Regions from separate parts of the Homo sapiens genome. Here region 1 is linked to region 2. Evidence: fine-mapped expression QTL. A gene starts in region 2. The other region holds a variant in brackets. All regions are shown on one strand. Distances are between the middles of the regions.

The links. PIP is the estimated chance that this variant, and not a neighbour inherited with it, causes the effect.
Region 1: its variant is the best candidate, but not a certain one, in a credible set for the expression of PALS2 in whole blood (INTERVAL, PIP 0.62).

What each region holds. Positions count from the first base shown.
Region 1 is chr7:24,443,448-24,458,568 of GRCh38, forward strand. It overlaps LOC107986777 (a long non-coding RNA gene), which reads right to left and starts at 1,691. Exons shown (of 4, transcript XR_001745132.2): 1 at 1,612-1,691. RefSeq lists an enhancer at 12,711-12,760. The variant C/A (reference allele first, on the strand shown) is at 8,976.
Region 2 is chr7:24,566,392-24,581,512 of GRCh38, forward strand. PALS2 (protein associated with LIN7 2, MAGUK p55 family member) reads left to right here and starts at 7,061. Exons shown (of 12, transcript NM_001303037.2): 1 at 7,061-7,202. RefSeq lists enhancers at 6,210-6,279, 6,300-6,399, 7,265-7,764, 7,710-7,759, 7,810-7,929 and 1 more and a silencer at 6,540-7,609.

The sequences.
Region 1 (15,121 bases), 120 kb before region 2:
CCAAATTCCTTTTTCTCTCTCAGTACATAGCTAGACTACATTTTCCAGCCCCCTCATATCTAGTTCTCAATAATGGAACTCTCACGCTGGAGCGATATATAACTTCTAAGAAGAAACATATAAAAGTGGGTATGCCTTCTCCACATTTTCTTTTCACTTCCTGGTTGGCTGTTTGGAAAGCATAGAGTGGAGGACAATTGTGGCACAGGGGATGACAAAGGTACTAGTTGGAAACAACCTGGATCCCTGTGTCACCACCTGGAAGAGAACAACCCGAGAGGACATGACCAGAAACATCTACATTGAACTTTCCACGAGTTAGAAACGAATTTTTATTATGTTAAGTCTCTAATATTTTAGTGGTTTTTTGTTACCACAGTATTGCTTAATGTATCCTGACTAGCACAACTCCCAAATTCTGTAGCCCTACTTTCTGTTTCTTAACATGCTTCTAGCATAACAGCTATAATTTGCTTCTCACAGATCCTTTGCATCTTTAAAGTTGGGCAAGTTACCTAGAAGTTTGGTAAAAAGAAAATATAAAGTAACTCAAAAAATATTTTTGAATGCCTATTAGTTGCTGGGTAGTGGGCTAGGCACTGAGATTATGTAGATGAAACACAAAAGTGATAACATAGTGCTTCACTCAATATTACACCTCTGGGGGCTGAGTTATCTCTGCTCCCAAGATATCTTCACTCTGCTCCCAAGAATAAATTCCCTGTCCATACTGGATCTTGTAGGAAGGGTAAAAGATAGTCTTTTTCCCTGTGCTTCTTATTGACAAGTCTCAGTCCTAAGGCTACAAGGCAGCTCCCATATATCTTGTTTTTTTTTTTTTCCTTCTGAAGATCCACTGGAGCCTCTTATGAAGATCCCTCACTGGCTGCCCTAACATGCCAGGACTTCACAGGTGACTAGGAAAATAGGTAACCCCCCACAACACCCTCCCTGTAGTCATACAATTTTAATGTCACAGTATGTTTTTATATGTTGTTGGTTGTTTATTTTTTCTCCCTAGATGCCCAGAAGGGTGGATCACAAGATTGTGAATTTGACTTTCACTCTAGCACTCTGTACAAGAAAAACTGTATCTGGTAGAGACATGAAGTTATTTTAAATGGGAAAATAAATGATTAGTAAAATGATAGTTATTTTAATTTTCACTAGAAAAGATAAGACACTTAAATAAAGAGGGAGACTTTCCATCTTTTTGGGAGAGCAAATATGAGGTTGATTTAAAATTTTTTTTAAAAGCCCCAGCCATGAAACTTACTCTAAACATAACAAATTTGCATTTCCATTTCCAATTTAGCCTTATAGTCCTGAAAACATTTCTCCTTCCAAAGATTTTTGGTATTTCATCTGCTACTAAACAACATGCTGCCGGATAATTAAAGAGCCACATTTGGGGTGTTTTCAAGAATCTCCGTGTGTTCCTGGGATGGTTCCACAGAACTTCAGATTACATCGTCTGTTATACATTGTTAAAGGGAATTGTTGAAATCAGAGACGTCCATTGAGCCCAGAAAGAACCAGAGGAGCAACAATAATAGCTGGATGCTATAAATGCCTCAGTATTTGAACTCATCTTTCAATCATTGCACTCACCGTAGGTAGAATATTCAGCAAAAGGACGTTTGCCACAGAACCATCATCTGTTTCTCACTCTGCAGTGTCTGACAGTGAGTGAGATCGGCTCACTTTGATACTGAATGTGTTGGTTGGAGATAATTAATTCCCAGCCTGTGTGAGTTAATCATTGTTTCCCCACTTTTCTCAGCTTTAATCAGACTCCCATGAGCCTTCCACTGAGCATGCTCACAAGAGCATTCACGTGCCCCTTGTTATTGCTGTCAAATCCCGTATGCGAAAGGAATCTACTTTACAGAACGACAGCACAGCATTCTTCACTTAACAGCAACTAGATTCTACTATTCAATTTATGGACTAAAGTTGACAGATATAGCCAATTGGCCATTGATAATAGTACAACATACAATAAAATTATATTTTAAGACAGTGCCAACTTGAGTACCTTTCTTCCATATAAACAATTCACAAGGTCCCTCATGGAGGAGGAACACTGTTTTCTGATTATCCTGTAATTGGTACAAAATATTTCACTAGGCCAGGTGCGGTGGCTCACACCTGCAGTCCCAGCACTTTGGGAGGCCAAGGCAGGTGGATCACTTGAGGTCAGGAGTTCGAGACCAGCCTGCCCATCATGGCAAAACTCCGTCTCTACTAAAAATACAAAAAAAAAAAAAAATCAGCTGGGTGTGGTGGCACGTGCCTGTAATCCTGGCTACTCAGGAGGCTGAAGCAGGAGAAGCGGCTTGAAACCAGGAGGTGGAGGTTGCAGTGAGCTAAGATTGTGCTACTGCACTCCAGCCTGGGTGACAGAGTGAGACTCTGTCTCAAAAACAAAACAGCAAAAAAAACAAAACAAAAAAAAATTCACTACTGAATTGGAAGTATTGCATTTTCTTTTCTCTCCGTATTCATTTTTTGGTTGTTGTTGTTTGAGACGGAGTCTCGCTCTGTCACCCAGGCTGGAGTGCAGTGGCACAATCTTGGCTCACTGCAACCTCTGCCTCCTGAGTTCCAGTGATTCTCCTGCCTCAACCTCCCAAGTAGCTGGGATTACAGGTGTGCACCACCATGCCCAGCTAATTTTGTATTTTAGTAGAGACGGGGTTTTGCCATGTTGGCCAGGCTGATCTCGATCTCCTGACCTCAGGTGATCCACCCGCCTCAGCCTCCCGAAGTGCTGGGATTACAGGTGTGAGCCACTGCACCTGGCCTAAAATATTAAAAAAAAAAAAAAAAAAAAAAAAGAAGCCTAAGTATTTCTGACTCTTCAATACTAGAACCTAGCAGCTAACCCAGGGAAGGCTACTCAACAAACAGCTATTGAACTAAAATCTTTCCACGTTTGTTCAATTGAAATGGTTGTTTTATCTTTACCCTGACTTTTATCTGCTTGGAATATCCCTCTGGCAATAATGCTGTATTCTGACACACAGTTCTTTTTAAGTACTAAGTTACATTGCTGTTGGAGTTTTAGATTTTGAATATTCCCCGTGTGGGCATTTCAAATGATAGATGGAACACCTATGCCACTAAAAATTTTTAACTACGTGAAAGAAAAATTTCTCTACTTGTTTCTCTTCAACCATAATATTTTTAATCAGTACTGAGATGATAAATTAAACTAAATAGATTGCTCAGTTGATTTTTTGTGTGTTACTGCCGACTTTATTTTTCTTACGATCATTCTGACATTCTTCTTTGGTTAAAAAGAAAGAAAACTCAAAAAGATGTACCCTTTGAATTAAAATTTTGATAAAGATATAGAAAGAAAGAAAAAGAGAAAAGGGGAAATGAAGAGAAGGGAAGGAATTCAAAGATGCTTTGATATAGATATGAAAGATCTTGGCTTGAGCCTTCTGTTCTCTGTAGGGTCCAGACCCTTCCAGACACATTCATTGATCTAGGGGGATAGGGAAGCCTCACAGGCCTGTTGATGTGGCTGCTAAGGAGCCTCCGGAGAACACACTAGTTCTGTTTATTGCTGGCATGCAGAAACATCTGGCACTTCTCAAGGCCAGGTGAAGGGGATAATGGGATCCTGGGGTAAGGAGAGGTGTGAAGAGCCTATTTAGAGAAAACTCAACCTAGGAAAGAAGACACTAGGTACTTTGACCTTTAAGTAGCCACTGAAGTGGGGTGGGGACTCCTAATAACAAGACAATAACTATACCAGATCTACCCAGCCTCACCTTCAGACCCATGTCTGCATCTGCAGAGAAGAAAGCTGTGAGTAGAAACAAAAAGAGCTGCTTCTCTAAACTGTCAGGGGCATTAGGCACAGATGCCCCATTGTCAGGGGGTCCCCCACATTCCTGAAGGTCGCTGTGTGACCTTGGCACTTGGCCACTGTCAGAGTGGACACTTGTGTTCAGCAAAGCAATCCAAAGCAATGGCACATTCACTGTGGCTGGTGGGACACTGTGGAGTGACCAGCCAAGTATAGTGGCAACAGGCAGAGAGGACGGCCATGCCTGGGGGATGGGAAGAAGAGTAGTGAGGTTCAGCAGCATCACATGGTCACCAGCGCAATAGTACACATGAGGAACACCTTCTGGGAACACCCAGTTGTTGTCAGGTGGACTGGAGATGCTGTGAGAGCAAGCAGAGGCACTGGGCCAGCAAAAGGTCGGTCTGAGTGTGTACTGGTCTGTCCCATTTATCCTCCAGGGGTGACTGAGGCCTGGAGACACTTGGGATAGACAGAGAAAAAGGAATCCTGAGGAGATGTCCTTATCAAATGAAGTAGGTAAAGAAATTTTTGTTTAAAACATCAGGAAAACTGGCCAGGTGCACTGGCTCATGCCTGTAATCCCAGCCCTTTGGGAAACCAAGAGGAGCAGATTGCCTGAGCTCAAGAGTTTGAGACCAGTCTGAGCAACATGGAGAAAGCCCGTTTCTACCAAAAAATACAAAACATAGCCAGGTTTAGTGGTGCATGCCTGTGATCCGAACCACATAGGAGGCTGAGGTGCAAGGATTACCTGAGCGGGAGAAGTCAGGGCTGTAGTGAGCTGTGATTGTACCACTGCACTCCAGCCTGGGAGACTAAGTGAGGCCTTGTCTTAAAAAAAAAAAAAAAAAAAAAGAAGTCGGGAAAATCAGTGTAAAGCATTGAAAATCACACATGTATGAGGCACCCACGTGTGCCAGTCTCTCTGCTGGGTGCCTTCCGGGCCTGCCTTATGTGCTCTCAGCCAGCTCTGTGAAAGGGCATCACGTGATTAAACAAAAGCTCAAGGTGTTTGAAAATAACATTTCTAAAATCACAAAACCAGTGATAGTGGATATTCAATTCATGTCTTTCTGACTCAATGCCTTTATCCTTTCCATGGTTTCTGAACAGAAAACCATGCAAAATAATAACAGTTGATAAATCTTTGTGAAGGGTAGGCAGGAGTCCAATGTGCTATTCTTACAACTCTTAAGTAAATATGATTTTTTTTTTCTGAAATAAAAAAGAAGAGGCCGGGTGTGGTGGCTCACACCTGTAATCCCAGCACTTTGGGAGGCTGAGGCAGGTGGATCACCTGAGGTAAGGAGTTTGAGACCAGCCTGGCCAACATGGTGAAACCCCATCTTTACTAAAAATACCAAAAAAAATTTAGCCCGGCACGGTGGGGCATGCCTGTATTCCCAAGTACTTGGTACACTGAGGGTTAATAATTGCTTGAACCCACAAGGCGGAGGTTGCAGTGAGCGGAGATCATGCCACTGCACTCTAGCCTGGGCAATAGAGCGAGACTCTGTCTCAAGAAAAAAAGAAAAGAAGAAAAGGAAGAGGAAGAAAAATTAAAATCATGCAAACCAAAATTTGAAAAGTGGTAGGGATCTACCGTATGATCTGTCGAGATCACCAAGAGATTGTCTGCCCTGGGCCTCCCTTTCAGAGGAATCGCTGCTTCCGTGCCCCTTGGCTTCATTCTCATAAATCACCTGGATTGGGTGGAATTCTAGGTGGGCCCTGTTTTCCTGTCCTAGGGCTGCTGTAACAACATATCACAAACTGAGCGGCTTCAACAACAGAAATTTCTTCTCTCACAGTTCTGGAGGCTAGAAATCTGAAATCAAGACATCAGTGGGGCTGTGCTCCCTCCAGATGCTCTAAGGAGAATCCCACCTTGCTTCTTTTAGTTTCCAGGGGTTGCCAGCATTCTTGGTGTTCCATGGCTCATGGCAGCAGCCCATCTCTGCCTCCGTCTTCACACGGCCTTCTTCCCTGCGTCTCTCTCTGCCCAAATTTCCCCTTCTTGTAAAGACACCCCCAATCCAGTATGACCTCATCTTAACTCAATCACATCCACAAAAATCCTATTCCCAAACAAAGTCACTTTCACACGTCCCACGTGGACATGAATTTAGGGGTGACACTATTCAACTCAGTACTGTCCTCCAAGATCCCCACCTTCTGGTGTACATGTCCCAAATAATCCCCTCTCCTCAAGTGTAAGCAGCACCTGCAAATATGACGGGTTAGTCACTTCTTTTTTCTTCTTTCTCTCCTTTTTTTTTTCTTTTGAGAGGGAGTCTTGCTCTGTCACCCAGGCTGGAGTGCAGTTGGCGCCACCTGGCTCCACCTCCCAGGTTCAAGCGATTCTCGTGCCTCAGCCTCATGAGTGACTGGGATTACAGGCACACCACCAAACCCAGCTACATTTTTTTTGTATTTTTAGTAGAGATGGGGTTTCACCATGTTGGCCAGGCTGGTCTCAAACTCCTGACCTTAAGTGATCCGCCTGCCTTGGCCTCCCAAAGAGGGTTAGTCACTTCTGGGATTCCATGATATTACAGAAGACTCCATCGCAGCAGGCTGGAGAGAGCTTTAAGTGATGGTTTTGAGGAAGGGCCTGATTAAGAGCTTTTTCCTGATGGCTTTGAGGAAGCACATGGCCATGCTGTGGGAGAGCCACATGGTTAGGACCTGAGAGTGGTCTCAAAGAGCTCAGAGCAACCCCCAGCTAACAGTCAGCAAGAAAATGGGACCTCTGTCCTATAACCACAAGGAGTTGAATGACCTCTGCTGACAACCAGAGTTCTGAATGGGCTTGAAAATGGATTGAGCACCTCCAGACAAGAAGTCAGCCTGCTGAGACCTGAGTGGGGAACCCAGTGAAGCCATACCCAGATTCCCCACCCATAGGATGAGCTGATAATAAATGCGTATCTTTTCACTGCTAAATTTGTGGTAATTTGTCATGTAGCAATAGAAAACTAATGCGTCATCCAGTGTCTTTTTCCCTTTAGATTGGTCTGCAGATGGCTCAAACAAATTATAAAGATGTGAAATTTGGAGGAGAGACAATAGGGCTAGAAAACTTTGCATCTGATTTAGATTTGTCTTCCCATTTGGAGCGGCTCTGAATGGTTCCTGGCTTTATCATGACTTGGTAGTTATTGTGTCCCATATATCTTCCCCAACCATTTGCCCCACCCCACTTAAGGAAATCAAAACTGGTTTCTGTTGTTTGCAATCAAAAGCACCTAATTAATTCAAAACTATAGAGTGTAAATGTTGTGGAAGTGTATATTAAGTTACCTATATGATAGTGTGAGACTAAAAAAAATGAAAATCATAAACTTTAAAGAAAGATTTCAGCTAAGAAAATTAGTACTATTATGTGGAGGTGATAAATGAGTATTGTATTATATTATATTATATTATAGTTACCAGGCTGTGTACTTTACATATATAAGCTCATTTAATCCTTACAAAGACCTCATCGGATAGGCAGTTGCTACCTTTAATCTCGTTTCTCATTTACAGATTTAACAAGTGATCAAGCTGGGATCTTAACCCAGGTCTGTCTGACTCTAGGGCCTGCCTTTTAAATCACTAAGCAATATTGCTTCCAGCAAAATAATTAGTGCCATATATTGTCCTCAAGCCGTAACCTTGGGTTTAAGAGTCTCTTAGTCTACCAAATGAAAGAAGAATAAAAATCGTCTTGTAAATAATGAAATAAAATCCAGGTAAAATTAAACAAATATATTTTCTAACGACGTCAAAAAAAATGAAAGCCATTTGTTTTGGAATAGGATTTATCAGACTCTGCCTGGTTTCCAGGTACCCCTCAGTGTCCCTCCCCACCACGAGTGACACTACTGACCCCTCCACCTGTGTTTCAGTTCGGCTCCGGTTTCTAGGGCCAAGGCTCTCAGCCTGGGCTGTACATTAGACCCACCTGGGGGCTTTTAAAATCCTGGAAGCCACCCAGTTTGTGATACTTACATCAGAATCCCCAGGTGTGGGGCTCAGGCTTTGGTATGTTCTTCTGGTTCTCCGGGTGTTCCCATTTTGCTGTCACAGCTTCGAGAACACTGCTCCAGGATTCACGCAGACCTCGGGCAGAAAGACAGAAAGGCTTCTAACCTAGCCTTTGCTTCTAGTCATATATGCTGTCTGCAATGCAGCTTGACTGGGGACCCCAGGGCACAAGGCTGGACTTCCACTTTTACCTCCAGACCCAGGCTCCGTCTTGTGCATCAGTTCTAGTTACAGAGACCTCCTTCTCATTGAGTCTGAGTTCCCGTTTTAATAACCTGTGCCTCACTCCACTTCCTACAAGTTTGGGGGTTCATCTGTCTTGCTTTGTCTTGTTCTCCCTGAACCAGAGTTCTACCTACAACCTACTAAATGGCCTAGACCCTGCCATTCATGGACAGCTGTTCCTGAAACCACCACCCATTCCTGCATCAACCTTTGCTGGGCTTTGCACACTAAGCACACCTGACCGTTGGTGGTCATTAGCTGCCTGACTACGTCATTGTCCTCCTTGTTCTGGACTTTTCCTAGTCCCCTCCCTGGGCTTGCCCCCAGCTCCCATCCTGTCCCCCACTGTCAGTTTCTCTGCACCTGTCACCACATTGCACTTTGTGGAATCCTCTCACAATCAAGGCGGAGCACTTGCTGAAAGTAAGCAGTCACTCGCTTGTAGAAATTAATACATTTCATCCCAAAACAATTTAGTAGTGTTTGAAAATGCATTGAAGAATATGTGTCATTTACACTGCCTATTACACAACAGATCAATAAGAGAATACCTGTATTTTATATAATTAAATATATGTTCATTCATTCACCTGAAAACAGATTATAAGAAGCAGGAGTGAATGCAAGAAGAACTGTTGGAAGGAAAACTGTATCAGTCCAGATGCATTTGGCATGGACTAATGGGGTTACAGCACAGACAAAAAGAAGTGGGTGGATTCAGAACAAATTCGAGAAGCATAGCTGATACGAGGAAGGGTCAGAGGTATAAGAAAGCTGTTATGGACTGAATGTTTGTATCTCCTCAAAATCTGTATATTGAAATCCTAACCCCCAATGTGATGGTATTAGAAGGTGGAGCCTTTGAGAGGTAATTAGGTCAGGAGAGTAGAGA[C/A]CTCAGGAATGGAATTAGTGCCCTCATAAAAGGGACCCCAGAAATCCCAGTTCTCTTCCCACCACATAAGGATACAAGAAGAAGACTCTCACTGGAAGTGACCACACTGACACGGTGATCTTGGACTTCCAGCTTCCAAAACTGTGAGAAATAAATTTTTGTTGTTTCTTAGCCACTCAGCCTATTGTATTTAGTTATAGTCTAAAACTGAAGTGAAGATGCCAGAACCACTTTATAGATGGGAAGTTAAGCGAATGGTTAAAGGTAACGCCTTCTACTGAGTTAGTGAAGATGGGGGAAGGACAGATTCAGCAGAAGATACCAGGTGATCTGTGGATAAGTTTAAAGTGCCTATTAGGCACCCAATCACTAAATAACCTGTTACACATTCAATATCCTGGGCAATTTACGCGGCAAATAAAAAAGACATAGCATCCCCACACGTTCTCCCCATGTCTGTGTGGGTTTTCTCCAGGTGCTCCAGTTTTCTACTATATGTGCGTGTTAGGTTCATTGACATGTATACATGGTACCAACATGAGAGAGTAAGCGTGTGAGTGGCCCTGCTATGGGTTGGTATCTAGTCCAGGATTGGTTCCCACCGTCAGCTACCCAGATAAGCTCTGGCATCCCGCAATCCTGAACTGGAATAAGCAGGTTGGAAAAGGAATGAGTGAATGAATATAAACTATGGTCAAATAAAAATTAATAAAGGAGATGACAATCATACAGATGCCCAACAATAAATGATGTGTACAAAAGTGCTCAAAAAGGACAACCGATTGGTGATTTTTTTTGAACTTTGTGGTGGCAGGAGGTACTCTTACGATTTTTGCTTTGCAAATATTTATTTCCTGATTTAACTCACCACCACTATGACCACCATCACTTACTAATTCAACAAAAATGGGCAAATAATTTTTACCTTTAAAAACTAATCTTTCTTAAATGTATGTATAGCTCACATGGATTATGTTAGAAGTGTTGGCGTCTTTAGAAGTTTGGTGATGTTTTTAATTCTCGTTTTTATCAATTAACCTATGGTAAAACTGGTTTTGCTATATGCCGTTTCATTTGAAGTCACAGTTTGTAAGAATCTATGTTGTGCAGAACCCCTATCAGCTCCCATGGGGATGGCACCAGGTTCAAGAGGCCAAAGAAGAGACCCAGAGCCAGCAAACAAGACATGGCGTTTCACCGAGGCTTACATACAGAAGACAGAGCCCATTGGCAGCAGGATGGACAGACGTGCCCTATATACAGTCCAGTGGTGAAGGGCTGAGCAGGAGAACTGCAACCACTTGCAAAAGGCATGCAGTTTATGGAACATTTTCACTTAATATCCTCCCCCTGACAACCTCCCTCTGGCAACCTTCATTCAACCCGAAACTCGGAGGCTCGATTCCCCTATATGGCCTATGTTCCATGGGACAGGAAGGGGGCTCAGATGTTCCTCATAAACAAGGAACAAATCTCCAGCTGGCCATTCCCAGTTTCCCTAGCTCAGAACACACATTCAGGTGCATCTGTCATACAGGGTCATCCTCAGGGTACGCTAAAGTTATTGCTCTCAGGTGCATTTACCATACAATCTATAGACAATGTTAAGTGAAAACTTACTGTACTCTGGCTGTGAAACAGTGTTGTCAATACTATTCTATTGTTACTACTTTCAACAACTTGGCAAAAAAACCTTTGATAGTTATTTGGTATTGAACACACACGTCTAACTTGTTGTCCGTGTAATTGCAGGGTCTGTCAGTGGTAACGTGAACAGGAGCTGGGGAGGCATATTTGTGAGAAGCCAAATCTGAGTGCTGTCACATTTCATCCTGTCTGCTGACTAATATCCACGTTTGGGAGGGAAGTTCTCCGAATGTCTTGCTTCTTTTTTCATCCTCAACCGTGACTGTGTTACCCCGCTCTGACCGTGGCATAGCATCCTGACATGAGAGTACTTCCAGCTCTTCAGGGTATTCATATTGCAGAAGTTTTGAGTTTAAACAACTGTGGAAAGTATATTATTGCTAATTTTTGTTGAATTATTATTTTATTTTTAGAGACAGGTTCTTGCTCTGTCACCCAGGCTGGAGTGCAGTGGCACAATCATAGCTCACTGTTAACTTGAACTCCTGGGCCCGAGTGATCCTCCCACCTCAGCCTCTTGAGTAACTAGGACTATGGGTACGCACCACCATGCCCACCTAATTTTGTTTGTTTGTGGAGATGGGGTTTCACTACCCTGTCCAGACTGATCTCAAACTCCTGGCCTCAAGGGACCCTCCTGCCTCGACCTACCAAACTGCTGGGTTAACAGGCATGATCCACCATGACTGGCCTTGAATGATTATTGTAGAAAATTGGGAAATAATTATAATAAAGGAAAAAAAGCATCATTTGTGATACCATCAGGCCAGAGGTAGACACCCTTGATGCTTTGATGCATTTTCCTCAACTCTTTTACATGTGTGCATATATATTTTTTGCTTTTATAAAATTGGGGGTTTCCTGCTTTTTTCACTTAAAGGTGTATCATATGCATTTTCCTGTATCATTACTTTTCTAAAACATGATTGTTATTGACTGCAATTATATGCATATCTCATAATTGTTTAGCTATTGTAGATTATAAGCCTCAAGACAAATTTTAAAAAATAATTTTCTGTTTTTGTTTTGAGATGGAGTCTCGCTCTGTCACCCAGGCAGGAGTGCAGTGGCATGATCTTGGCTCACTGCAACCTCCGCTTCCCAGGTTCAAGTGATTCTTCTGCCTCAGCCTCCTGGGTAGCTGGGACTACAGGCGCACACCACCATGCCTGGCTAATTTTTTGTATTTTTAGTAGAGACAGGGTTTCATCGTATTGTCCAGGCTGGTCTTGAACTCCTGACCTTGTGATCTGCCCACCTCAGACTCCCAAAGTGCTGGGATTACAGGCGTGAGCCACTGCTCCCAGCCAAAATAATGTATTTATAATGATTGTTTATGGGATGGAGTTTACTGCTTTGGAATTAGAGGGACTGAGGTTTAAGTCCCCTCTTATGAGATATTTGACCTAGGCAGAGGACCAATCCTCCCAGCCTCACCTGTAAAATGGAGCTAATTTAAATAACTAGGTTATTGTAAGAATTACATGATATAATCTCTGCACCCAGAAAAAGTACATAGAAAGCTATTACAATTGATTTGTTTTCAGAAAGCTTGGAGCTAGAAACTCGCATACCTATACATAATATAAAAAAAGAATTTTGGAGAGGTCCTACAGTGAAAAACCAAGGATATTTGTTGTGAACCTAGAAAAATGTCCTGGCACAGGGGCATAAAAAGGTTAACTTTTTGCATTTTAGAGTGTCCACAATGCGGTGATGTTTGGCCCTTTCACAAGTTAAAAGGATTGAGTTAAAGGGAGCAATGATCTCTAGAAATAGGGTTTGGTGGAGTCTCTAAAGGGGTGTGTGTGTGTGTGTTCTGTTTTTAAAAACTGGAAACTTCTCTGCTAAATGTTCTGTAAACAAGCTCTGTTGGATTAGCAGAACTTGCAAAAATTATGGTGACTGAAACCAGAACCATTGGTATGCTCTAGCATGCTGTGGTTTTCAACCCTTTCTAAAAGTCTCTTATGCAAAGCAGATTTCAGCAAAGCTGCTCTGGTGGAAGAGGGAGACATGCCCCATGCCCACTCTGCTTTTCCTCAAAATGCCATCCTCTCCCCTCCACGCGGTGACAGGGAACTGAGAGACCTAAGCTCCCAACCCAACGATCCCACTAACTGGCTGCGTGTGATTTTGAATAAGTACTGACCTCCATATTTTCATTTCCCTTGCCCATGAATGAGATGACTAGGCACTAAGGTCCCTTCCACTCTAATAGCCATGATTTTCTGAGTCTTCATATTCGCTTTTCCTGGAGTCCCTCCAGCCTCCCTGAGCTATGAGAACTCCACATTTGGCCTCCAACATTGGCAGAGATTATGCCTTTTCCCTTATCCAAGAGGAGTCAGAATTTTCGTGGTAACTAAATGATACTGTATCTGGTGCTGTAAAAGAGATTATAGGCTGTGACTGTCCAGATTTGCAATGTGGTTTGGGGGAAACTTTAGGAGAAATAAACATTGGGAGCTACAGATAAGGAACCAGTGCTAAGAAGGGAAGGGGCAGGATTTCTGTGAATAATCACAATGTCAATGACATTAAACAAACAACACGCATATATAGTTAACAATCAGAATTAATTATATTTATATCTATGTCTCAGACACTTTTTGCAGTAGCATGAGAACAGTGATCCTCCCTCAATTCTGAGTCAGGATTTAAAATTCCAGAAATCCTTCCACCCCCACCCCACATACACACAGAAATTTCAAATTCAATTGATGTGGGTAGAGCCTAGCTTCCAGTATTTTGGGGATTCTGAAGTCAGCCAAGGTTGAGAATGGATGTATTTAGAGAACTAATGTGCCTGTCTGTTTCTTCATGGAGGCAGACATTTCCACGTGCCCATCAAAAGCAAATAACAAAACTGAAATCCTTTTATCATTTACCTGACTAAATCTCACTTTCAGAGGCTGTCATTACTGTTGCAGTATTACCTAACTCAGGCTTGGCACACAAGAGACAGTTAATATTTATACTGTTTACAAAACCGTTCAATAAGTACTGGGACCGTGGCACACAGAGAAGAATTTGCTGCATCATGATCTCATTTCAATTCCCTGATGGCAGTTCAGCCATCTGTGTGACAAAGTTCAGGGACTTTGGACTATCAAACCTTCAGACTTTGTGAGTCCCAGATCATAGCCCCTTATCTTCAAGAATGTAACTTAAAAAAAAGTTTGGAGGAGCAGGATAATAATGCTCCAGCTGAACTTATTCCCTGGCACCTGGTGACCTTGTTTATTCCAGAAGGATTGGCATCCCCCATTAAACCACTGTGCTTCCAGCAGCTGTCCTTAAATGATTAATGTAAGCAGGCAGATAAACCTTAGGTCATTCCTAAACCAGAGAAGTATCTGCAAATTAATACACAAGCTTAACCTCGTTTTACTGGGGTTGAAGATTTTCTTGAACTGATGTCCATCTGACATCACTGCGGGGCTAAGACTATACTTACTCTAAATCATACTCTGCCAGGGCAGATTCAATCACTCGTTTGCTTAACTCAGTTAACAAGCCCTTATTCCCACAATAGCCCACTTGCCACACAAGTAATACTCCTCAAAAGACTCTTTAAAGTTGACTGGGAAGCAACCTTCTGCTTTCTTCCATGCCACTAAGACCAAAAAAAAAAAACCAAGTGTCACAAATAAAGAATTTCAATGAAGAGACCTAGTAATTGGATTCTGTCTGTCCTGAGTTTTCAATCATACTCCAAAATCTGACTTTTCTAAAATACATAATACCTTCCAATTTTGAAAGAGAGCTCAATAAATAATTTCTTAAAAATATTATCTTTGCCTCAATAATTCCATTCCCAGCGCTTTATAATCTGCCTTCTTTCCTCTCTTCCATAAGGGAAGGAGGAAGGAAGGAAGGAAGGAAGGAAGGAAGGAAGGAAGGAAGGAAGGAAGGAAGGAAAGAAGGAAAGAAGGAAAGAAGGAAACGTGTTACACATATAGATGGGCTTCAAACAATAAAGAGATTGGTTAAGTCAAGTGTACTATACCAACCTGATGAACAGTTATAAAATAATTGTGAACACTATAGAATGACATGAAAATGCTAATGTTTACCAAAAAAGCAAAATACAACACTACATAACAATACATCTTTCTTTCTTTCTTTTGAGACAGAGTCTTGCTCTGTTTCCCAGGCTGGAGTGCAGTGGTGTAATCTTGGCTCACTGCAACCTTCACTTCCTGGGTTCAAACGATTCTCCTTCCTCAACCTCCTGAGTAGCTAGGACTACAGGCGCGCACCACCATGCCCAGCTAATTTTTTTTTTTTTGTATTTTTAGTAGAGACGGAGTTTTACTATGTTGGCCAGGCTGGTCTCGAACTCCTGACCTCGTGATCCACCCACCTCAGCCTCCCAAAGTGCTGTGATTACAGGCGTGAGCCACCATGCTCGGCCCCAACAATACATCTATACTATGCATTGTGGATGTATTTATATGTATATGAACTAGCAAGAAATAGGAAGAATAAAAAGT
Region 2 (15,121 bases):
TAGGTAACATGTCTACTTCTTGCACTAATCCCTATGGCTGAAGGGATGGGGCACTCTTATTGGCCAGGCCTGGGTCACATGGCCACTCTTGTAATTTAAGAATATGGGGAGGATATGGTGATTAGTAGTCCCACCAGAATCTAATGCAAAATAGATAGCCTTTCCACAAATGCTACATTGTTAAAATACACACATACAGTAAGTCTGTAGATCGTGGTGGTGAATCTGAGTTAAATAACATGCTACAGAGAACCTCTAATTGTAGTAACTCGTACTATAATTCATTCCAGTTGAATTGACCTGAAAGTTACAAAGCACTCTGTGTATGAAGTGTGGGAATGAGCAGGAGTTTTGCAGCAGAGCTTCTTTAAACACTTCCTGGTTCTGAAGCCTGAGCCATTAACTCCTCTTCACTTGTTTTCTCATCTGAAAAATGGGAGTAATAGTAATGATCCCCATGGGATGCTCCATATGAAGGTTATACACCAGTGTCTGCCACACAGGCATGAGCTCAATAGATAGTTGTCATTCGCTATTATTACCAAAGCAGGATTTTTTAAAAAGACTTGGTCTTTCATATTTATAAACAGCTGATATTTTAAGGAAAAACTAAATGCCCTGTACTTCCTAGCATGAAGATGGCATTGCTTTAAAATGGGCCATTAACTTCCCAGATTGTTAACAGCCAAAACAGCTTGCCATGGCTGCCCCGACTCATACACATACACCCCGACTTCCATCATTGCTTCCACGTCCCTTATCCTATCCATCTTTCATTCATTTATTTACCAAAAATGTCTTAAGAGCCTACTATGCATCTTAATGACTTGCTCTTACCCTCACGACTTCTCCTCAGTCCTTTGGAGGAGCATCGGCCTCACAGTTTGACCCTTTGTTTTTATGTTTAATCACCATTGACACCCTTTTTGCCTGTCATGCCAGAAGATTCTTCCAGAAGACCTCCACTGCCCTCCAGGACTTCGTGCCTGTCTGTGTTTTCAATGGGGAAAGGTACACACTATACTGACACTATATATTTTTACAAATTTTTAAGAAAGGTTTTTCCTGTTTTCCTATGTCTTTTTAATCTTCTTTTTGATACTTGAGTAGAAGGATTTTTTTTTCAGTTCATATATATAATGGGAGAGGTAGAATTTAGAGGCCGATTTTAAATGAGTATCTAAAAGGGTTAATTACATATAGATGCTGGCTCCTGGTGAGATAAAGTCAAGCTCAATTAAGGTCACTGCTTGAAATCTGATTGTCTTTCTAAGAGCTTTTCATCTGTAACTTGCATATTCTGGAACAAGTGTTCAATTGTAATTAGCAACATTTTTCACTTAATTTTATTTAATTTTAGAAGTCTACCAACTAACAGGTTTATCTGTTTCAATAAATGAGCAGCTACTATGTGCAGTACTATGCCAAGTGCTACAGGCATTCCTGTACACATCACCCTGGATTTTACCTGCAAGAAAGAAGGGGATGGGGCTGAGTGGCGGTAAAAAGAATGCAAAGATAAATATTTGAAAACATAAATGATGCTTTTATGAAGCAGAATAGGAAAGGAGCCATAAGATGCAATTAAAGTGCTACAGGAGTTCAAAGGAGAGCAATTACACTAGTCCCTTCTTATCCAAGAGGGCATCCATTCCAAGCCCCCCAGTGAATACCTGAAACCATGGATAGTACTGCACTGTACATATTTTATATATATATATATATATATATATATATGTACTATGGTTTGTAGACATACATACCTATGATAAAGTTTTTAATTTATACATTAGGCACGTTAAGAGATTAACAATAACTAATAATAAAATAGAACAATTATAACAATATACCTTCATAAAAGTTACGTGAACATAGTGTCTCTCTTTCTCAAAATATCTTATCATACTGTACTGAGGAAAACTGAAACCTTGGAAAGTGAAACCATGAATAAGGGGGGACTGGGGGACTACTGTACCTCTGTTTGAGGTGAGGCAGAAAGGGTTTCATGGAAAAGGAGGGTGTGAGATGAGCACACATGCTTGGATTTTGGCCAGCAGAGATGGCAGAAGGCAAAAACAGGGGTAGAAACATAAAGATACAAGATATGACTAACTAGAATATCCAAACAGGGAAGCTTTGACTGTCATTGTGAATGACCTTGTAAATGGGGTCCCGTAGGCAGTAAGGAGACAGGGATAAAATGACTGGCACCTGGCAGTCAGGGCAAGGAGGCCCTGAGGCAGGGAGATGAGTTAGGAGACTCTGTAGGACTAAAGCAAATAAACAAGAGAATCCATTCCTATAATTTTGAGAAAGTGGGCTGCAAGGGATTTGAGTATGTGTTTGTTCAGGAGATGGTAAAAGGAGGTAAAGGAAAGGAAGGTGCCAGAAAAACCAGCAGGAGCAACCCCGTGAATAGCTTATCTAGATGGAAATTTTCAACAGCGAGTTGAAAATATGCCTCAAGGGAGAATAGATACAGATGTGGAAGCATTGGTGCTAGAGTCCTAAGGATCCCTGGGATTCTCAAGATAAACAGTACTATCTGCTCTTTTTAAGTTTCTCCTCAAAAATTTATTTCATTCTTAGTGGAACATTTTTCTTTAGGAAGTAGGAGGAGATAACACAGCAAAGTAAGGGTCAGAGATGGAACAGTCAGAGAGGTCGAAAGAGCTCCCAGGTGGTATGGTATCAGAGAAGTTAAAGGAAAAGAGAGGTTTAGAGAGTGAGAGTACGAGAGATTAACCTCCTCAAACACTGCAGAGAAGTTCAATGGCATGAACACTAAGCAAAGACCTTCCCCACTAATTCTGTCATATACTATTAAGACACCTGGCATAGCACTTATTATGTAATATTTTGCTTATTATTCTTCGCCATTAGGTAGGGACTACTTGATATTGTTAATTTTTTTATTTTCATTATGCTTCACTAGTAAATGAGTGACTGAATGGATGAACACATGAATGAAAATGTTAATTGTGATGGAAATAGTAGTTTCAGCAGAGAAGTGGGTGTGGAAGCCCAATTCCAATGCCTAAAATAAACAAATAATGGTAAGAAAAGTCAAGGAGATATGCTGAGATATATAGTTTTCTTTTTTAAGGAAAAACCAAACAACCCCAAAACTCAAGTTCTTATAATGTTTGGCTTTAATTGTGATGATTAAAAAAAAAAAAAGAACTGCCATCGTATCAGGAAATGTTTTTTCAGACAGCTAGTTTAGAGGAGAAAGTTCTGCTAAGACATTTCTGTTTGAGACAGTTGACCCAGTGGGACTTTTGGAAAGATTTAGATTATAAGAAAAGCCTCTGACAAATATCTATGAAAGCAAGATTAAAACAATAATGTACACAATCAACTGAGGTCCAGCGGTTTGTAAACCAGTGCCAGTCGGGATGCTCAGAGCTGGGAACGGTGATCTTCAGGCAGCCAGGTGAGACTAATCTGGAGAAGCTTTAGGAAGGAGATAAATTTAAGCTGTTTTGAAAGGGGACTATTCTAGTCAATTGGCAAAGAGTCTTAAAGCACAGGATTAGGAATTTTAATTTGATTACTCGAGGTAATTTGGAGCTACCCCACTGTTGTGAAGATTTGGTATAAATGTTGTTTGGAAGATGATTCATTTCCATAGTTCTTAACTCTGGCTGCGTATTAGAGTTATCTGGAGAGCTCTGAAAAAATCCTGGCACCCAGGCTGTGCTCCAGAGCAATTAAGTCTGGGATGGCATCAAAGCATCAGTGCTTTGTTTTGTTTCTTAAAGTTCTCTGGGTGATTTCAATAAAGAGCCAAAAATTAAGAAGCACTGCTCTGAGTATAGGATAAATTGCAAGGAAGCAAGAGAGAGGCTAGAATTAGAAAGGTTAGCAAGGAGGCTGGAAATTGGAATCTGACCTAGCTTTGTGAGCAGAGATAAAAGGAGTGAAGCTAAATAAAGTATTCTGAAGGAAAACTTGGTTGGACTTTGTGATGCATGCCAGTTGCATTTTTAAATAAAGCTATCCTCCAGGAGTGTCACTGCTTTTACTATGATGGATTAGTTGAAAAACAAGTACACAGGATTTGCTTTTGCTAAAATTCGGGGCTATTAGCAAAATTCTCAATTTCTGTAGGAGCAAAGCAGGTCAGAAGAGAAAAGAAAATGTAATCACATTAAAAGTGTATGTTGTTTACATTTGAAGGAGGAAACAAAATTGAGTGATGGATGCTCCTGAATTAAGAATCAAAATTCAAATTTTAAATTGAATTACCGTTGGGAGATACTGGGCTGTGGTAAAATTATGATCCCTTTAGAGTAACCTTGAAGGAAATGAAAAGTCAGACTATTAAGGACACTGAAGAGAAAGATCCACCATCATTCTCAATCATATCATTCCCCTTTCTTGGAATGAAGAATTTGTAACCGGTATGGGAAATGGATGGTGGTGTCTCAGTATGATGACCTCTCAGAAAGCTGAGTTGGGAACCAATGATGGGAGTTCCAATGTTTAACTGAGAACACTTTAAATTTATCCTGGCATGTCCCACCTTTAAAGTTTAGAGGAAGGGCAGAATGTTATAAAATGGGAATATCATTTATAAAAGGAAATAGTGTTTCCTTTTATAACTGTATATGAGTATTTGATACAATACTCATCTGACACTGAGAGAGGAACTTCACCGGCAAGAGCTTTCTGAAGGGGAGCAATCAAAGACAGTTATTGGAGCAAAATCATTTTTCTGACTCTAAGAATGAAGCTGAGTCTTACGGCAGTGATAAGCCTCCATCTGATAGCTGCTGTCATTACTTAGAGCACAGACTTGGAACTGCAAATGAAAGATAATTGTTCCTGTATTCCTGCTCCCAAATGCTGGGTCTCTGGTAGATGCAGAGATAAAGCAGTTGGCCAGGAGTGGTGCCAGCTTTAAGTCAGGTAGGTCTGCATGTAATTTGAGGGGCAGAGCCTACCCCAAACCCTCCCTCCCTAAAACTTCCTCAGTTAACATCATTCTACTTGCAGGGAGCAGGGGTAGAGTAGGTTAGGACATTGTTTCCAGAAGACCCTTGAGGAAATAAAAGTGCACTATTAAGGATCACTAACATATCTGGAAATGACATTCATACCCTACCTCCCACCCCAACCCCAGAGAAGCTCAGGGCAAGTAACTAAGTGGCTGGGTCCAAGGGGATGTGTTAAGGTTAAGAGTCAGAAGGGAAAAGAGTTCACAAGCCTGGGTAGGGTACAGCAGGGAGGACCCATGGGTGTCCTGTGAGAAGCAAGTGGGCCTGGGGCAGCAAGAAGGACCTGAAAGGTCTTGCTGACACCCCGAGAAGACAAACCCCATCCTTCCGCTTTGTCTCTGCCTTGGGCTCCGAGCCCACTCCACTTCATTTCATCCAGCCATCCTGACTACAGGGGGCCCAAAGCTACTCTGTGCCCTGGGCACGTTTGAGTCTCCTTAAATGCTTCCAATTACCTTTGCCTGGGTTTGTGGTTCCAGGAAAGAAGGTTCTAAATTAACACTGTACAAGGCCCCCCTGCATGTTGGTTTGCAAAATTAATGATCCTAATGGAAAAGTAAATTAATCTTTGATGCTTGGTTGAGGATAAACACAAAAATCACTGTTTTGGACACTGGACCTTCTTAATACATCTCATCAATAGTATTTTCTCTCTCCCTTCCATGCCTGCCACATTCACAAAGAGAGGAGACAATACAACTTATAACTTCATCTCTGAATCCAAAGGGCCATGATGCACGCATTTATTCTGCAAACACTTATTAATGGTCTGGTTTGTGCAAGGTGCCCAAGAGAAGCCAGGAAAGGCTGCACAGAGGAGGCCACCTCATAACACTCCTCACACGTAAAGTTTGACTTGCACTTTCTACGTTCATGGTTTGAAAAGATTGCAGTAAGCATTTTGTAAAATGTAAATTACATTCTTCAATTTTAGGAAGAACACAATAGTTTTTCCAAAAGCCGCCTGTCACAGGTCTGAGGGTTCACAGAGCTCTTTTAAGGGGATCGGAAGTTCTCTGGCTGCCTTGCTATGTTTTTCTAGCCAGAAGTCTCTGCTGCAGTGCATTGCTCAGTTCCTTTCAACTGAAAAATTAAATCTGCACTTCTGTCAAAATGTGTCATCTACACATCCGGACACTCATCACAGTTCACCAAGCTCTACGCAGAGTCCAGGCTGAAAGGATGGCATGCCCTCCCCAACCCCACCCTTTTGAGGTCTGGGAAGCCCAGGTGCTGGGGAGGAGCTGAACAACTGTGTCCAGGGAGTGTCTGGCAAAGCCGACCCAGGGAGTTCCACGGGAGCCTCGGTGCTATGAAAAGAGCCAGTGTCCATGCATTTCCTCGGGTGTGAATCACACTGCCCGGTCGGGCCTTTGGGAAAAAATTAATGAAGGACACAGTCAGCGCCGTAGAACCTGCCAAATACACATCAGATCCAGTGGAGTCTGTGAAGGGGGAGGGGGAGATTTTTCCAGAGGCTTTTCTTCTCGTTCCATTTCTCTTTTGTGCCCCACGACTGGGTTCTTGAATGTAAAACTCTCAGAAAGGTCAGGGCGGAGCCTGTTTTATGCCCCGAGGAGTATCTTGCCCACCCGTAAATGCTGACAGACAGCTGCGACTTCGGCCCAGGAGACCCGGCGGGGACTGGGTCCGACCAGCCCTCTCTCGCGGGCGCAGGTCCGGGACCCCTGAAGCGAGCCGGCCGGGCGCAGAGCGCAGTCAGTCTGGGCGCTCAGAAGCTGGGAGGGGGCTCCACCTGGGCGCCCAGCCGCGGCGGGAGGGGCGGGGCCCGGCTTTCCGGAGGCGGTGGCACCTCCTCGCGCCCGAGCGCGCGCTCCCCGACGTCCGGCGCACGCGCGAGGCCGGCTGGGAGCGCGCCCAAGCGGCGGCGGCGGCGGCGGCTGGAGGAGGAGGAGGAGGAGGAGGAGGAGGAGGAGGGCGGCTGAGGCGCGGCTGGCTGCGCGCGCGGAGGCAGCGGCGGGGGCGACCGGAGCTGGGGCAGAGTGGGGAGCGAGGGAGGGGGAGGAGAGAGAGGGAGGCGGAGGGCAGTGAGAGACGCATTTCCAGTTCTCAACTACGAGCCACGAGTTTGCAGATGGGGCTGCTCGGCGGCGCCTGTGGCTGAGGGAGAGCAGCGGCGGCGGGGAGCGACCGGGAGCGGCGGCAGCGGCGGCGCGGAGGCGGCTGAGGTGCGAGCCGGTGAGTTAACTGGACCCCCACGCCGCTCGGGTAACGGTCGCGCCGCGCGCCGGGCCGGCCGGGGGCGCCCTGTTGCTCGGCGCGGCGCGCCACGCGGGGACCCTGGCCCGCCCCGCCCCCCTCGGCACCTGGGCTTCGGCGGGCGCGGGGAAGAGGGACCGGCAGGCGGCGGCGGCGGCGCCGCGGTCGGGGAGGCTGCTGGCCGCCCCCAGCCCGGCCCGCGCGGAAGGGGCGCTCGGCCGGGCTCCTGCCTCTCTGGCTGCGGGCGGCTGGGCGGGCCGGAGCTCGGCAACGTGTCTGGCCCATGCTGCTTGCCGCCGCTCCCCACGCGCTCCCCGGCGCGGCCCCGACTGGGGCTAGGGCCGCAGACGCGCGGGGCCCCTTCGGGCGCGGGGCTTGGGTGCCTACACCTCTGCGGCGGGAGTCGCGGTGGAGCCTGAATGGAGAGCCGGCCTGGGGGCGGCGTTGCTGTGACTGACACCTCCGGGGTCTGTCCCGAGAGGGGGTGATTCCGCCGGCTCCCGGTTCTCTCCCGAGCTCGGAGTTGGTAGGGGAGGAGGCTTTCTCCAACTACCGCCGCTACTTCCGAGGTACGAGACTCCAGTTGTTTGGCCAAAGTGGCTGTGGGCCGAGCACAGGCTGCCGCGGGGGCGTTCGCTGCTGAGATCGTGCTCGCGGATTCTCGGTACGTTTGTCTGAAACCAAATAGGTGCTGGGGCTTTTTTATTTTGGCTGGGTGGAGGGTCAGCAGGGGAGTCGATTGAGGTATCCGACCGTGTGGTGACAGGATGTGGATTGGTTGGTAGATGTTTTTTTGCAGAAGGACTTTTTAACACTTTACTGGGAGTTTATTCTCAATCCTACCAGTTTCTGGGATTGCAGCTCGAGATTACATTTGTTAAACTTCCATCAGTTGGGTGTGCATCTGTGTAGGGGGTGGGGGTGAAGCGAGGGAGAGAATTGAAGACTGCCGGGGAAGCTCAGAAAATTCTCCGCATTACTTATAAACAGCCGGGTAAGGTCAGGCTAGCCACGTTTTATTCTTTCCTACGCCTTTGGAGAGTGTTGGAATTTTACTTTGTGCTTCAAGTATATTACAAGTGGTCTTGTAGTGTAGCTGAGAACGTTTGGGGTGCGTTAAAATGCGTTTCAATTGGAGTATGATTTAGCAGCCATTTCTTCCCGTGAAATTTTGCAAATCATTTGTAAACTTATGTTGGTCGAATATACCAGGCGAAGTAACATTTTTAGTAATGCGGTATATAGTTTCCGTATATAGGTATAGCAACGGACCTCAAGTAATATTGCTTATTGTAGGCATCTACTGTGCAATGATAGGGTAGTGGGTAGTAGGCCTGATTATAGTTATGTCTTCTGAGGCCTTGTTAACAGTAAACAAAGAACTTTTGTGGGTTGTGTCATTTTGAGGTCATTTGTACCTTAAATCTATCATATATTTAAATAGGTGTTTAAATGCGTGTTTGCACGATGTGTTACTCTTTAAGGTCCATGTTTCCTTCATTCTGGACTACGGTTACATAATACACAAATGGTAACACTTTTAATTGCTCAATTTTGTCCTATGGAGACTGCACACCATCTTTATGAAAGAGGTGTGTATGTGTCCTTACTGATGCCACCGAATTCTTGACATCTGGAATGTCAAAATGAATTATTTTGCATTCTAGGTTAAATCAACACTGGAAAAATTAAGGTGTTTAAGCAAGTCTAGTAGCTCTATATAAGACAGAATCTTTTTTTTTCTTTAGGCCAACTGTTGGATTTTTAAAAATGAATCATATTTTTAAACATTTGAGGGAGCAGTTTGCTTCTGAGTCTCATTTTAGGCTGAAATTGTTCCAGAGCACTACATAGCCTGCTTCTCTCTTTCTCTCCCCACTCCCCCTCTTTTTAGCTTGAGATAACCAAGAAGACATAACTGTGACTCTATGTGTTATCTTTTTAAAAAGTTGTTTTAAAATTGAAGTTGCTTGTTTGAATATTTACTATCCCTTTACATGCTTTACTACTTAATAATGGATTAGCAGAATAAAACAGATATTTTAATTAAATGTCTTTCATATTTTTGACATCTGAGCTTTGTAAAAATGGAGTAGCATCATATTATTGCTGAGAGAGTTACAAATAATACAGGATTAGTGCTAGTCAAAGGCTAATTGTAAAAAAACAGCCAGAAAATAAAATTAAAAGAGGTAAGAGGACGCATTTATACTTTTGACATCACTCTAATATAAATTACCTATTGCTAGGTGACTTTTGAAAAAGAGTATCTTGTAAAATTCACATTAGGTATATAATAGTTAATAATTTTTCCTTCCAGAGTGATTCACTTGATGAGTGACTAGATTTTTTTTTTTTAAATCAGAACTCTACTTCAGGTAAGTATAGTTAACCATGTAAGTGATGTGCTGATGTTTATTTCAGGAAGAATGAACACTTACCCATTTGATAAATACTGAACTGTTTGGGAATATGTCAGTTATTCCTTAAAACTTAGGCGGAGAAAAATTATGCTAGTTTTGTTTTAACTGTAGGTTCTTTAGAAAAGTAGTCTTCACATTTATAAATATAAGAGCAGATAAGCACAAGAGATCTCTTTCCTGATATGGTGCTAGTATTGAATTAAAGATTTTATTTTTTTGTTGTAGGGACCAGTTTTGTTTAGTCTTCCTGTTCAGTCTCACAGAAGCTGCAATGATTTTCCTCCTTTTCTGTTACTTGTATCTGACCACTGGGGGGAGACTTTACAATTGGGCTTGACCATATTCCTTCTTTACATACATTGGCTGCTAATCCTGGGCACTTTGTCAAACTGCTGGGTAGTGTGCTGAGGAGGATGCACTCTGAAGCAAGTCTCAATCAAGGTGTTTAATGACTTTTCTTTCTTTAACTCACAGCATGCTTACAAAGTATCATTCTTTATAGACTGTGTTATTAACAGTCTACTGTTAAGTGGTCTAAGTATGCCTCTAACATAATGAAAGATAAGATTCCTGAATACATTATAGCTTTCAAAGATCCGACTTTACTTGCATTAATCTTAGAAGCAGTGTAGGTTTAATTGCTTGCTTAGAGTACACAGATATTAGTTGTCTGGAAGGATCTGGAAAGATCATCACTCTTCTGTGAAGTGTATCTATATCCAAACCCTTTAAACAAATTGGTCTCCTCTTATAAAAAGCTTTTGGAGGAGAAGATATTGAAGCATCCCATGTAGCTAATTTTAGTGTTCATTTCACCGCAGAGGGGAAGTTCTTCCTTTATCATAGTCATATAGATAAGATTAAAGCCCACAACTTTGTTAACCATTAAGCTGTGACCATTATTACCAGGTGTAATAAAGTCAAAAGCCTGGTTTCTACTTTTTCTTTTCTGACAGTATTTAACCTTGTTAATGTCCAATTCAATAATAATGAACTCAGTAAACAGAGGCTGCTACGTTTATAGTAGTTTAGAAAGAACTTAAGTTTTATGACCTTCCTTAATTATGATAGACTAATTCAAAGACCTTTCTATAATCTTTATCATAGTAAGTATATTCACAGAGTAATGAACAGAACAAAATTAGTTTCTATTTTTCCTTCATCCTAGGTTATTTTCCTTCTTTCCTTTAAGATGACTTTGCTTTCATCCGAAAATTCTTTTTTCCTTTTTTCCTTTTTTTTTTTTTTTAATATAGTGTACTAGAAGAGATACTTTCTGCTTAGGAATATATTCATCTCTGGCTAACTTTAGGATTGTGTTAAGTACTTGGGAATGGAAGTTTCTAAAAGCCTATCTGTCAGAGTTATCACTGATACAAGGCAAAATGAGAATTAAAGACAATATAATGAATATTTCATAAAGCTCAAGTTATTTTCAGATCCTTTCTACTGCTTGCTAGTTTTGTACATGATTTAATCCCTCCTTCACCAATTTACATCTTTTCCTCTTAAATCTATCATTTCTTTACCCTCTTCCTCCACTTTTTGCTATATTTCATCTACATTGCCCTTCATTTTGTTCCTCATCAATGCCATGGCTTGCTCCTAACTTAGGGCTTTTGCACTATGTTCACTCTGTTGGGAACTCTTCCTAAATCATTACATGAGTGACTACTTTTCATCATTTCATGTTGTAGTTCAAATATCATCTTTTCAGACAAGCATTGCTACCTAACCATCCTTCCAGAATGACACTAGCCTCATCCCCCTCAATCCCATTACCTTTTTTACTTAAAAATTTCTTCAAACCATTTATCAGTATCTGAAATTATGTTTTTATATTATTTTATAATCTCCATACTCACTAGAATATAAGCCCCGTGATATCAATGATCTTGTCTCTTTTTGTTTTTGTTTTTGAGATAGAATCTCACTCGGTCACCCCAGGCTGGAGTGCAGTGGTGTGTGTGATCACGGCTCACTGCAGCCTGGAACTCCTAGGCTCAAGTGATCCTCCCACCTCAGCCTCCTGGTAGCTAGGACTATAGGCAACAACTACCATGCCGAGCTAATTAAAAAAAAAAAATTCTGTAGAAATGGAGTCTTGCTGTGTGTGTTGCCCAGGCTGCTCTCAAACTCCTGATCTCAAGGGATTCTCTCGCCTCAGTGCCTCAAAGCACTGGGATCATAAGCATGAACCACCACACCCTGCTGATCTTGTCTCTTTTGATTAACACTATATTTCAAGGACTTAGACCTGTTCCTGGCACATAGCTGTCATTAAATAAATCATCCTTTTAAAAAATCTGAGGTCATGTTCTTTCTGAGGTTTCGGTGTTCAAATGCTCCTTTATAAAATGATAGTAGTATGGTAAACAGGCCTCTTTTGGCCATAAGTAATAGAAATCCATTCTAGTTGTTATAAAGGGAATTTATCGTTCAAATGCAGCCAATGTCCAGTGGAATGCAAGGACTGGGACTCCAGTGCCTGCAGGGCACATCATATCGTTTCTCTCTTCTTCTCTGTGCGTTTGCTTCATTCCTTCTCTTGCTGCAGAGGACCACTTCTAGTCCTCTTAGTGGAAAATATGGCCACCAGTAGCTTCTGAGTTTTCATGATACCAGCCTGGGAAACTGGAGAAAGGTTCATCTAGTTCTTCCCTGTTCAATAAACTATATCTCATTATTAGAACTTGGTTGTACTTGCTGTAACCACATGTAATGGGATTAAACAGACAATCCAAGTAGGTGCCCCTGTGATAATTAATGTTCATACTTATTCATCTGCTGCAAAACACTCGTCTCTCCTCTTTTTAAATTTGATCTTGAAATCTGAAGTATCTGAAAAGCACTCTTCCTGGAGATATAGAAAAGAAATGTGATATCTTTCATGGGCATGATTTGCAGTTTGATTGAGGAAGATAAAATATATACAAAAAGGAAGTAAAATAAAAATAGCATGATAATGGAGGAACTGGTAGAAATATTTGCAATTTGTATGATAAATAAGAGTCTAACTTCCTTTATATAAAGTACCTACTAACCAATTAGGAAAAGACCAACCATCAAGTGGGCAAAGATCATGAACAGAGTAATTCTCAGAAAAGGAAATGCAAGTGTTTTGTAAGCATCTGTAAAGGTATTCAACCTCACACATAATACAAATATTATAAATAAAAACTATGAGATACTGTTTCACCTACTGACAGATGGAAAATGTTTGATAATACTTTTGAAGAGGCTATTAGTTAACAGGGGCTTTCACATTGTTGGTGGAAACACAAATCAAAATCTGATGTGGTTGAAATTTCTGAAGAGCATTAAGGTAAATAGAAAAGGCTGGAAATATGCCTTAATTGATACAGATGTTTGTGAAAGGGTAAAAAGTTAATGCACAACTTATTTGAACACTAACTTGCATTGCTTTGTTTTTGGCTAAAGTCATAAACAAACTGAAACAGCAGGCTTCCTCCCCCAAAAAGAGATACCTTTTGAGTGGTATTTAGTTACCCCTTTCCATCTTCTCCATTCCCCTTTCTTCTACCCCAGTACTGGTAAAGTTGTTTATAAATCACCGAGATTTTCCGATACTTTGTATCCTTCACACAGCCCAGCACTTTGTTACCTACTTAGTAGCACTAAGTAAAGATTTAATTGAAGGAGCTTAGCTTATCACCTTTTTATAGACCCAGTTCATAATTCTTATGTTTTTGGAAGAAATCTTTTATAAAAAGTGATTTTCAATTTCATTTGATAAATCTACTTAGAATATTTATTAGAATAGGCAATAGAGCAATTTTTTATAAATCTTGGTTTATTGTATAGCATATTAATGGAACTTTTTCATAGTTGCTTTGTTCTGTAGGATATTATTAGATATTAGTTGGGTAGGATTAATATTTTTAAAAGATAGAATAGGGCAGCTGGAGATATGTGGGACTTTTAAAGAAAAATGTATGAGAAAGTGTGGGGAAAATGATTCTCTGAGCAGACTGGGGGCCATATGCTTAGGAAAGGAAAAGTGAAAGGTGAGGGATTCGTTTAGAGAAATTCTGTGGTGGAACTCAGAGGGGTACATGTTGGGAGAAGTTTTAACTTAGGAAAATACTAAGCTGATTTACTTAAATGCATATTTCAAGGATAAATACTTTATATTTTGTTCTGTAGGTCATTTTTACCATGAAGTGACTCTGGCAGGGATTCTTTACCTAAGTGGGCATCAGAATCCTTTGGAGCTATCCTACGCTAAAGGATTCTAATTTAGTAGGTCTGGTATGGGGCAGGAGCATGTTTATATTGTTAAAATCCCCAGGAGCCACCATTTGAGTGTAAAATAATACATCCTGTGGAATATTCCATTTTAATAATGAAATCATTCAACAAAGCTTTTGAGGTTGTATATAATTTAGGTAACTCTAATGCTGGAACTTGGTCTCTCACCAGGTCAATACTTCTGCACATACCTCATTGATCCCCATTGCTTTACTCTCTTGCATACTCTTCCCTCCTCTGCCTTCTTGTTTCTTTTCTACTAATGAATATTCAGGCATGGTTCTCCAAGGAAGCCATCATTAGGTGGCCTCATCCATAATTTATCTTTTCAGTACAGAACAAATTATAACACAGTGCTTATACAACTGGCAAGTACACTCATCACATGAGTAGATGATTTATGTGTTTTCGTTCACATGAGCCTTGAACAAATATACCCAGTTTTACTAGTTGAGCTTCCTTGTTTTTTCTTCTTGCTATCAAGAGGTTGGCGTTTAGTCATAGTTAATGCTGATGTAAACATTTGATAATATTATAGATACCACCATGTTTCAAGGTCTATGTTAAATGCTCTCCACACATTATCTCATCTGCTTGTTGCAGATTTTAAAATTATGTTTTTTAAGTCACTAAAATCTTTTTATGATTGTATTAGTTTTCTGTGACTGCTGTGACAAATTGCCACAGACTTAGTGGCTTATAAATAAATGTATTCTCTTACGATTCTGAAGGCCAGACATTTGAAATCAGTATAATTGGGCCAAAATCAAGGTGTCAACAGGGACATTTTTCCTCCAAAGAATCTAAGGGAGAACTTACTTGTTGCCTTTTCCAGTTTCTGGTGGCTTCTGGCATTCCTTGGCTTGCGGCTACACACTGCAGTCTTCAAGGCTGGCATTTGAAATCTTTCAGCTCTGTGTCTTTCATTTCCCCACGTGTGTGTGTGTGTGTGTGTGTGTGTGTGTGTGTGTGTGTGTGTGTCAGAGAGAAAGGGAAATCTCCCTCTGTGAAGGACACTTGTGAAGGCATTTAGTGCTCTCTGGAATAACCTCCCCATCACAAGATCTTTAATCACACCTGTGAAACTTTCCAAATGCGGTGACATTCATAGGTGTCAGGAATTAAGACATAGATATCTTGTGGAGGGGGAGACTATTATTCAGCCTACCATAATGGTAATTTAAATAGTTCAGAAAAGGGAGG